2 separate regions of the Homo sapiens genome follow, and region 1 is reported to be linked to region 2. The links are microRNA targets in miRTarBase. Many come from high-throughput screens and were not tested one by one. Region 2 holds a microRNA gene; the other region holds the end of a gene's coding sequence.
The links. The annotated mature microRNA hsa-miR-3675-3p reads CAUCUCUAAGGAACUCCCCCAA and lies in region 2 at 3,146-3,167, shown strand. An mRNA with a match to its seed (bases 2 to 7 or 8) in the 3' UTR can be bound and repressed. Matches are read on the target gene's strand: a 7mer-m8 pairs with bases 2 to 8, a 7mer-A1 pairs with bases 2 to 7 and ends in A, and an 8mer does both.

Region 1 (4,400 bases), not on the chromosome of region 2:
CTGGTTGAATAAATGCCATTTGAGATCAGCATTTCCCAAAGTGTGTTCTTTAGAATGCTAGTTCAGTGGGATATAACTAAGTATTAACATTAAAAGAAGAAAAATGTTCTCAGGGTCAATTAAGTCTGGAAAATTCCCTTTCAACTTTTTACATATTTACAGTAGAACTTTTGTCTTTAATATGCAAACATGCATTAAATTATTTAAGAGAGGCTGGGTGTGGTGGCTCATGCTTGTAATACCTGCACTTTGGGAGGTGGAGGTGGGTGATCACCTGAGGTCAGGAGTTCAAGACCAGCCTGGCCAACATGGTGAAACCGTCTCTACTAAAAATATAAAATCAGCCAGGTGTGGTGGTGTGCACCTACTTGGGTGGCTGAGGTAGGAGAATCACTTGAACCTGGGAGATGGAAGTTGCACTGAGCTGAGATTGTGCCAAAACTACAAAATTAGCTGGGTGTGATAGCATGCATCTGTAGTCCCAGCTACTGGGGAGGCTGAGGCAGGAGAATCACTTGAACTTGGGAGGCAGAAGTTGCAGTAAGCCGAGATCGTGCAACACTGCACTCCAGCCTGGGCAACAGAGCGAGACTCTGTCTCCAAAAAAAACAAAGAAAAAAAAAGAGAGAGAGAGAGAGAGAACTACAGCACACAATTTAGAAAACTTATTTCATCACAGCAATAACCTTCCACCTGCCTAGTATCTCACTACAATAAACATGCTGAAACAGGCTGCCTTAGACATTACTTTTTATTATCTCTCTTATCCATTAGTCTCTTCCCCAACTTCGTTAGCCTTTCTTCTGGCTCCCATCATTTTTTGCCTGGACTATTTTAGGTCCCCCTAATTAATCTCCAACTTACTCAATTTATCCACTATACCATGACAATTATCTTTCTAAAACTGATACTGATTAAATTGTTCAATATACATGCATCCAATAACAATTTTCAAAAACCAAAATAAAGACTTAATACAGCATACAAGAACACTCCTGATCCCACCACCCATCTGCTTCTTCAGCTTCACCTTCTTCAACTTCCTATCTTTCCAAGTGGCCCACTGGCAATACCGCAATTACGCTCTACCCCCAAGTCTGGAATTCCCTTGTCCCCCTGAACCAATGAGCATTCATTCATCTTTCAAAACTCATATTTTCTACAAAGACTTTCCCAACTACCTACCTCCTTTTCCAGAAAAATAGGGCATTCTTTCTGATGTCCCTAGGTATAGTATTATTGTACTTTCATATTATCTACAGCAACTGTGACTGCTCACTTGATAAAAATTTGCCTTAAAAATATGTCTAGCCCTTTAAAATAATAATGTACCTATGTTAAATTTAACACCGTTGAAAATTTCAAAAACTGTTACATTTCACTTAAGGTGATGTATTTTGAATAATACAATTCTGACCTGTAATATGCAAACTTTGCGGGTTCAGAAGAGGAAAAACTCCTACTTTTTAGTGATGAAACTTTAGCAAATTTAGGCTGTAGAAGATATCTCAAGACAATAGGCTGGGGAAAAGTATACCATGAAAAAAATATATTTTATGATTTTTTAATACTTAGACATTACATTCCGTATCAAAATTTACCAACATGCTATTCTATAAATTCATGTCTTTTTACCATAGTTTGATTTTTTTTGTTTCATGCTAAAAAGCCCACTCTCATAATTACCTTTAGTATACATTACCTGGAATATAAAAATTTCATTAAATGTTGGCAAACTCTTCCCCATGACATGTAAAACAATTAGAAATGTCTAGTTATAAATTTTCTTAAGCTAATGAGCAAAAGAAAAGCCCCAATACATTGGCATTTTCACTTAACAGTGGCTCATAGTTACAATGATCAGAAATAAACCTACTTGCTACTGTGCTATATAGGGCAGTTTTGCCAAGTGCCCACCTTTAAGAGCTAGGTCAATTTCTAAGAAAACTGTATGGAAACATTCAGTTGTTAACAAAAATTTAATATTAAAATTACTCAGTTATTTAAATTATTGTTAATTTAGGAAAAAGAAAACCCATGTATTAATCACCCATAAAATAACTTTTATTTTAATAAATAACAGTGGGCTCACCAAAGGGCAGGGATTTTAACGTGTCAGGTTTTATGCTTATTGGTAGTAAGTCTTAAACAGGTGAAATGAACTATTCAATAAAACCCAAAAGGCCCTAAAAATAAAATACTTTAATAATAAAAATTAAAAAGAAATTTCCAAAAGAAAATAGTTCACTCCTTGACCATGCTTATTTATTCAGAGTACCAGCGATTTCAGTAAGTGCTTCATTTTTCCTGCAAATCTGATGTTGCACAGGGAATGTACACATTTTCATACCATCACAATATCATCAATATCTCAGGCCAATAATATTGTGAATGCAACTGTTTTATAACAAACACAAAATAAAAAAAAACAATGTTACTATTTACGGCAAACAGAAACAAAAGTAAATATTGCAAAGATGTTTTCTTATGTTTCTACTACTGATTTTAGTTGGACTTTAAATGAAGGTCATCAACTCTCCTGGAATAACCTCTACCTCTCGCTGTGAATCCACAGTATAAATATGGTGAATAAAGCTAAACTGTAAGAGCTAACTATATACTGAATAACCAAAATAATTATAACTAATACTGTTCTTGAAGACCAATCTAATGAAAAAAGTATCATTAGATATGGTGAGAAATACAGACAAATCTGTACAATCTAACATCTATAAACAGTAAAATCAAAACATCCAACTTCCTTATAGAAAGTGTTTTATCTATGTAATTATAAATGTTAAGGACTCTTGTATTTTATAAACACAAGATGGGCTCACTTTGATGATATCAATTTTAAGATTTATAAAAATGTTTAAAAAAATCTTTCCACAAAACTTTATACAGTTTAAAGCTATACACCAATCTATAAATCTCAGAAAATGGAAAACAAAACAAAACAAAAAATCTTTATAAGATCACATGTATAAAACAAGAAATGAAATGTGATTTTATTTAAGGCAATACTGGGCTACTTCACAAATCACCACCTCAAATATTTACACTGCTCCACACTACTAGTTTTCTATCACATTCACAAAGGATTTTTTTTTAATACCAAATGTTTAAAATCTTCAATGTAGTAAATTCTTTATTCACATTTCCATTGTATTTCATGGACTCATAGTAACTATATCCAATTAGAAGCAATGAAAAAAAAAAACTGTAGCTATAGGAAACTGCTAGAGAATCTGCTTTAATTTCACATGAATACCACCCCAAAATCCTGGATGGCAAATTTACAAAGCAGAGCAAAGTGTTGATATAATGTGCCTATTTTGTGAAAAGTAATCTTGATATCATCTTGTAAATAAATGTTTCATGTAAAAATCAATGAACTATGGCAGAGTTTCTGGTTTTAGTTCAAAAAGTTCTTAATTTAAAACAATAAAAGAACAATTTAAAAAACTTGATCGCTTAGTTAAAAATTAAAATTCCAAATATAAATGTGTCATTTAATAGTTTAGACTTACAGACTGCTGGTGGCAGCACATGATTTACAATAATAAATATATACAAAAAAGGTATCTACAAATAAAGAGTACTGTTATACATGAGCAGTGACCTGGTGAAACATACCAATCACACAGATAATTGTTTAGTTCATGAAAAGGGCAACTGGGTGATAGAAATTTGAGGTTTAGCTCACTATTTACAATAACTGAAGTACTGATTCTGTTCCTCAAGTCCCATAGGGATAAAAAAAAGTTTTACATGACAAATGTCATGTTTTTTTTTTCTTTTTTGTTTTTGGCCAGGTTAATTCATGTCAACAACAAAAAAATATAATGAAAGTTTCACAATTCTAGCATGCTTGATGGCTTCCTATTTAAAATAAAATGGTAAATGATGTATTTATACTACATTAATTATCAGTACTGACCTCTGCCTGTGGCTTTACCTATACTGATATCTTTCATAACAGACATATCTGGATCATTTGAATGTACTTCAAGTTTTTTCAGACTGACGGTAGGTTTCATTTCCTGAAGTTGCTTTAAGACAAGCTCAGTGCAATCTTTAAGATTCTTGTCTAAAACAATTTTTACATTATCACTGCACTGAAGCTGTGATGGATTGGCAAACTGTACAAACGTTTCGCTTTCTTTACAAGGACATACATGATTTCCACTAGTCACAGCAGTCTTATCAATATTTTTTCTTGAATTTGAATGGGATCCTTTTTTGTTTCCAGTATTCGGATGGTCTTTGTCAGTATTTTTCTTCTGCTTCACTGCAGACTCCTCAAGAAACTTCAGAAATGATACTTCAAATCCCATTGGCTTAAAAGAGCTCCAGTCAAAAGATGCAGGATGCTCCTCAATGGTTTGAATGGCAACAGC
Region 2 (4,400 bases):
CGCTACTTTCGTGAGTGTTGTCGTCACTTTACCTTGTGGTGGCCAAGCCCCTAAATGCACTATTAGGTTATGCAGTATGATTTTCAGCGTAAAAGACAGATAAAGAGCAACAGCGGGGTGAAAAAGACCCTTTTGCATTGGCCGGGAATTGAACCCGGGTCTCCCGCGTGGGAGGCGAGAATTCTACCACTGAACCACCAATGCCTCTGCGTAACTACCGCCTGGAGGATAACAGAAAAGAGTATCCACAAAGACTTAGAAACCGTTCCAAGCGGTTTTTTCAAGTGTCGACTAAAAGCTAACAAAGACATCCAAACCAAATGTGTTTTTACAGGAAACTTTTACTAGACAACGTTATAAATATCAAAATAGCTCATTTGTCGGATCAAACTCTTAACTCTGAAAAAGGTCCTTCTTTCTACCTGCATTACAAACCCCTATAATAAAACATCAGAAATTCATTCACGTTTCTTTTTTCTAATCCTAAATCTTCCATCGTCAACCTCAAACTGCTGCCTTAGAGGTTCTAAGAAGGTAACCTAACTGGTAGTTTAGGTAAGTAAAGTTCAAATCCAGGGAGGAAATCAGTAGCAGAAGCAGAATTAGAAGAAAGAGGAAATAAAAGGACAGAACCAAGGTAGAGAAAATGAAGAAATAAAGGTTGGTCCACTAAGTTAGTCTTTTGTCGCTGGTTTTTTTGGCAAAAGAGTAACGATCAGTCTCGTAATCATTATAATACTATTATTTGTCTGCTTGAAGATGTATAAAGCATTTGAAGGAAATGTGATATGAAAAGATGAAGAACGCTTGCCGTCAATGTTTCATTGTTTGGGAGAATCCCATTTCCTAAGTTAATATGCTTTGATGTATTAGCTATGTAAGGAGTAGACTAGTTTAAGGAAATATTGACGGTCAAATATTAGCATATTAGTCTTTTGATGAAGTTCAAATAGTAGAGAGATTTCTTTCCTCAATTTTCTCTGGAAACATTCAACTGAAGAGACAAATCCAGAGTTTTCTCCATATGTTGGGTCTGGGAGTCATTATGACTTTTTCAAAGACAGGAGCTGTGACATGGAATCATGCTTCTTCTCTAGCTGAGAAGCCAAGCTAGGTCCAGGCTGCGTCATAAACTTGAGCCCACCAAGGAAATCACCCTTCACATTGACCTCGCAGAGCTTTGGCTGTTCTCTGTTCTTTGCCCAACACCCAAGACACAAACCAGCTCTGGCCAACAAACCTTAACATATGATCTATATCCACCAGAGCTATATTTATTCCCAAATCTCCTTCTAAAATACAAACCTGTACTTTCTACTCTTAACTTCTAAATTTACAAAGGCCTCATATGCATCTCAGAGTCACAGATGCTAAAACTTAACCGGTTTTCTGAGGATTATTTGGGGAAGGGGTATGCATGCAAATGTATACACATAATTCATGTGATTTAGGAATATTGACTCTATGACTTCCAGATGCAGATTTAGAACCTTTTTAAAAAATATTTTGTTTTTGTTGTCTTGCAAATCAGCCAGATCTGCAACTTACCAGAGTAAAGCGAAGCCAAGCGGGACCCTTAGGAAATGCACTAAGATGTCATCCACTTTCAGTGTCAGCCTGTGAAAATACAGGCGATAGAAGAGAATGAAGAGAACCTGAAGGAATTTCTGGAACCAAAGCTAATATTAAGCAGGCCTCTTGCTGGCAGACCAGTGGAAACTGTAGCCTGGTCAACGATCTGTCTAGATTGAGGAGGTCTAAAGTGTAGCCACAGGTTCAACTACTTTTCTGTTTGTTTCCCAACCTCGATTAAACTCACTAAATTTAGGGACAAAAAAACAAAACAAAACACGATGTTCCCACGCAGTCTCGAACCAGAGACCTTTCATATGTGAAGCGAACATAATAACCACTACACCACAGAAACTGCATATACACCAAAAAAGGCAAAATATCATCATGAAAATCTTAGGTCAGCCATTTCTATTATCGTTTCCAAAGTAAGAAATTCAACTGCATTTCGAAATTCGACTGAAAAAAGCCCAATAAGCACCAGCCATCAAGAAGACTATGGCTCCCAATAGGCCCAGGCTTAGCGTTCCGCGCCCACCCCCAACACGAAAACCATGGGGACCCACACCCGGGCTTCGGGGACACATACCCGGGCTTCGGGCTCCCGCATCCTCCCCTGGGTATGCAGTTCCAGAACTAAGCGCCGTGTGCGGGATCCTCCCGGCTGACACTCTTCGGCTCCCAGAAGCTGCAGGAGCCGGCGGGCTTTGAGCGTCCGAGCCCTGGGCGCCCCGTGCCTCTCAGGAGGGTGGACGCCGCCCTTCCAGGGATGCGGACCCCGCCTCGGGGCCTTTTCCCCGGCGCCGGCCGTCGGGGCTCTTGGCTCTTCTCGTCCTCCCAGGAACCGTAGGACTCTCCTTGCCCTCCCTCCCGTAGGCCGAGGGGCGCGAGCTGCGCCTGTTTCCTCACGGACCCTTTGGCCTCAGCGCCTCGACGTCTTGCAATTGTTAGCTCACGGCTCTTCCTCCTATAACAAGGCCCTTCCATGTCATGTCCCCTACTCCCTCTTAGCACCAGAGAGATGCCGCCCCTGCCCCACAGGTCACATTCCATGAGTGGTGAAGTTTCTAGAGTTGTAACCATGGCATCTCCAGCCCTGTGTGTTCCTCTCCATGCTCCCCATTGAGCAGTCTTGATCCTGTATTAGCCCCAGGAAATGAAATAGAAACAGGACCCTACGTTAAAAAGTTGCAGTGGAGATGTGGTGGCCACCAGGGGCTGGAACTGTGGGGTGACTGAGAGTATCCAAAGCCCTGTGGCCAACCTACTGGTGCTGAGTGTGCTGGTGAGCCTCTCTGTCAGCTGGCTTCCCCGGGCCAGTTGCTCCCGGAAGCTCTGTCCCAGGTAGTAGTCAATGTCATTGCTCCTTAAGAGATCCTCAAAAGATTTTACTGTATCTTTTGCATGCTGGGTGAGAAGATAACAAACACCTCTCCCTTCTCGTATTTTTTGCCGTAGGTAAGACAGTTCCCGGGGCTGATCCTGAATCAGGGAATCATATTTCCTAATGCAGGACAGAAGAGGAAAGGGTGGATGATAAGTTATGGGGCTTCTGTAGAGATTTCTATGAGAACATCTCTAAGGAACTCCCCCAAACTGAATTCTGGCACGTAAGCCATAGGAGGTATTTAAGAGTAAATTCTACCCTGATAAATTATTGCACTAAAAATTTAGTATGGGCCGGGCGTGGTGACTGACGCCTGTAATCCCAGCACTTTGGGAGGCTGAGGCAGGCAGATCACAAGGTCAGAAGTTCGAGACCAGCCTGGCCAATATGGTGAAACCCCCTCCTCTACTAAAAACACACAAAAAAACTAGCTGGGCATGGTGGCACATGCCTGTAATCCCAGCTACTTGGGAGGCTGAGGGAGGAGAATTGCTTGAACCTGGGAGGGAGAGGTTGCAGTGAGCCGAGATGGCACCACTGCACTCCAGCCTGGGTGACAGAGTGAGACTCTGTATCAAAACAAAACAAAACAAAAAATTTACCATGCCACTGTTCTTCAACTGTTCTATATATGTTAATTATATGTCCCTAGATAAATCGTAAGGTCTGTGAGAATGAAGATAGTTCTGCGTTTCACATCCCTTACAGCACCAGCATCACAGAGATTCACAGCAGATACTCAATGAATAATTAGACTCATCTCATCCTAAGTCTAGATAGGACCTTTCATGTCTTCTGTTTTAACCACCACCTGATGTCTGAATTTCTTCTGTGTTGTGATACTGTGGCTGACTGTATTTTGCAATCATGGCCATCACATAAACTCTCATGCCATCAACTGATGAGACCCAAAACAAGAGACCCTAAGTGAGAGCCACCCAGCTGAGCCCAGTCAAACCACAGAACCATGAAGCATAATAAAGTACTGTTTGAAGTCACTAAGTTTTAGAGTGGTTCTTACTTAGCAGTAGATAACCAGGACGCATACCAAGATGAATGTCTGTGTTTTCAACACAAAGTGTCAATAACACTGATAACTATGGCAAATAGCATTGAGAGCTTAATGTATGCTGGGCACCATTCTAAGCACTTGTACTAATTTTTTTTTTTTTTTGAGACAGAGTCTTGCTCTGTCACCCAGGCTGGGGTGCAGTGGTACCATCTCGGCTCACTGCATCCTCCACTTCCCAGGTTCAAGCGATTCTCCTGCCTCAGCCTCCTGAGTAGCTGGGATTACAGGGGTGCACCACCATGCCCACCTAATTTTTATATTTTTAGTAGAGACAGGGTTTCACCATGTTGGGTAGCCTGGTCTCGAACTCCTGACCTCGGGTGTTCTGCCCACCTCAGCCTCCCAAAATGTTGGGATTACAGGCATGAG

Region 1: miRTarBase lists ZNF292 as a target of hsa-miR-3675-3p. Seed matches in the 3' UTR shown: 7mer-A1 at 756-762.

The regions. Positions count from the first base shown.
Region 1 is chr6:87,261,331-87,265,730 of GRCh38, reverse strand. It overlaps ZNF292 (zinc finger protein 292), which reads right to left. Exons shown (of 8, transcript NM_015021.3): 8 at 1-4,400. The coding sequence ends at 3,930. Among named protein-coding and RNA genes, the nearest start is that of SMIM8, 59 kb to the left of the region's middle.
Region 2 is chr1:16,857,725-16,862,124 of GRCh38, reverse strand. MIR3675 (microRNA 3675) reads left to right here and starts at 3,104; the gene lies at 3,104-3,176. It overlaps TRG-CCC1-2 (tRNA-Gly (anticodon CCC) 1-2), which reads right to left and starts at 204; the gene lies at 134-204. It also overlaps the pseudogene PDE4DIPP9 and the pseudogene TRV-CAC11-2.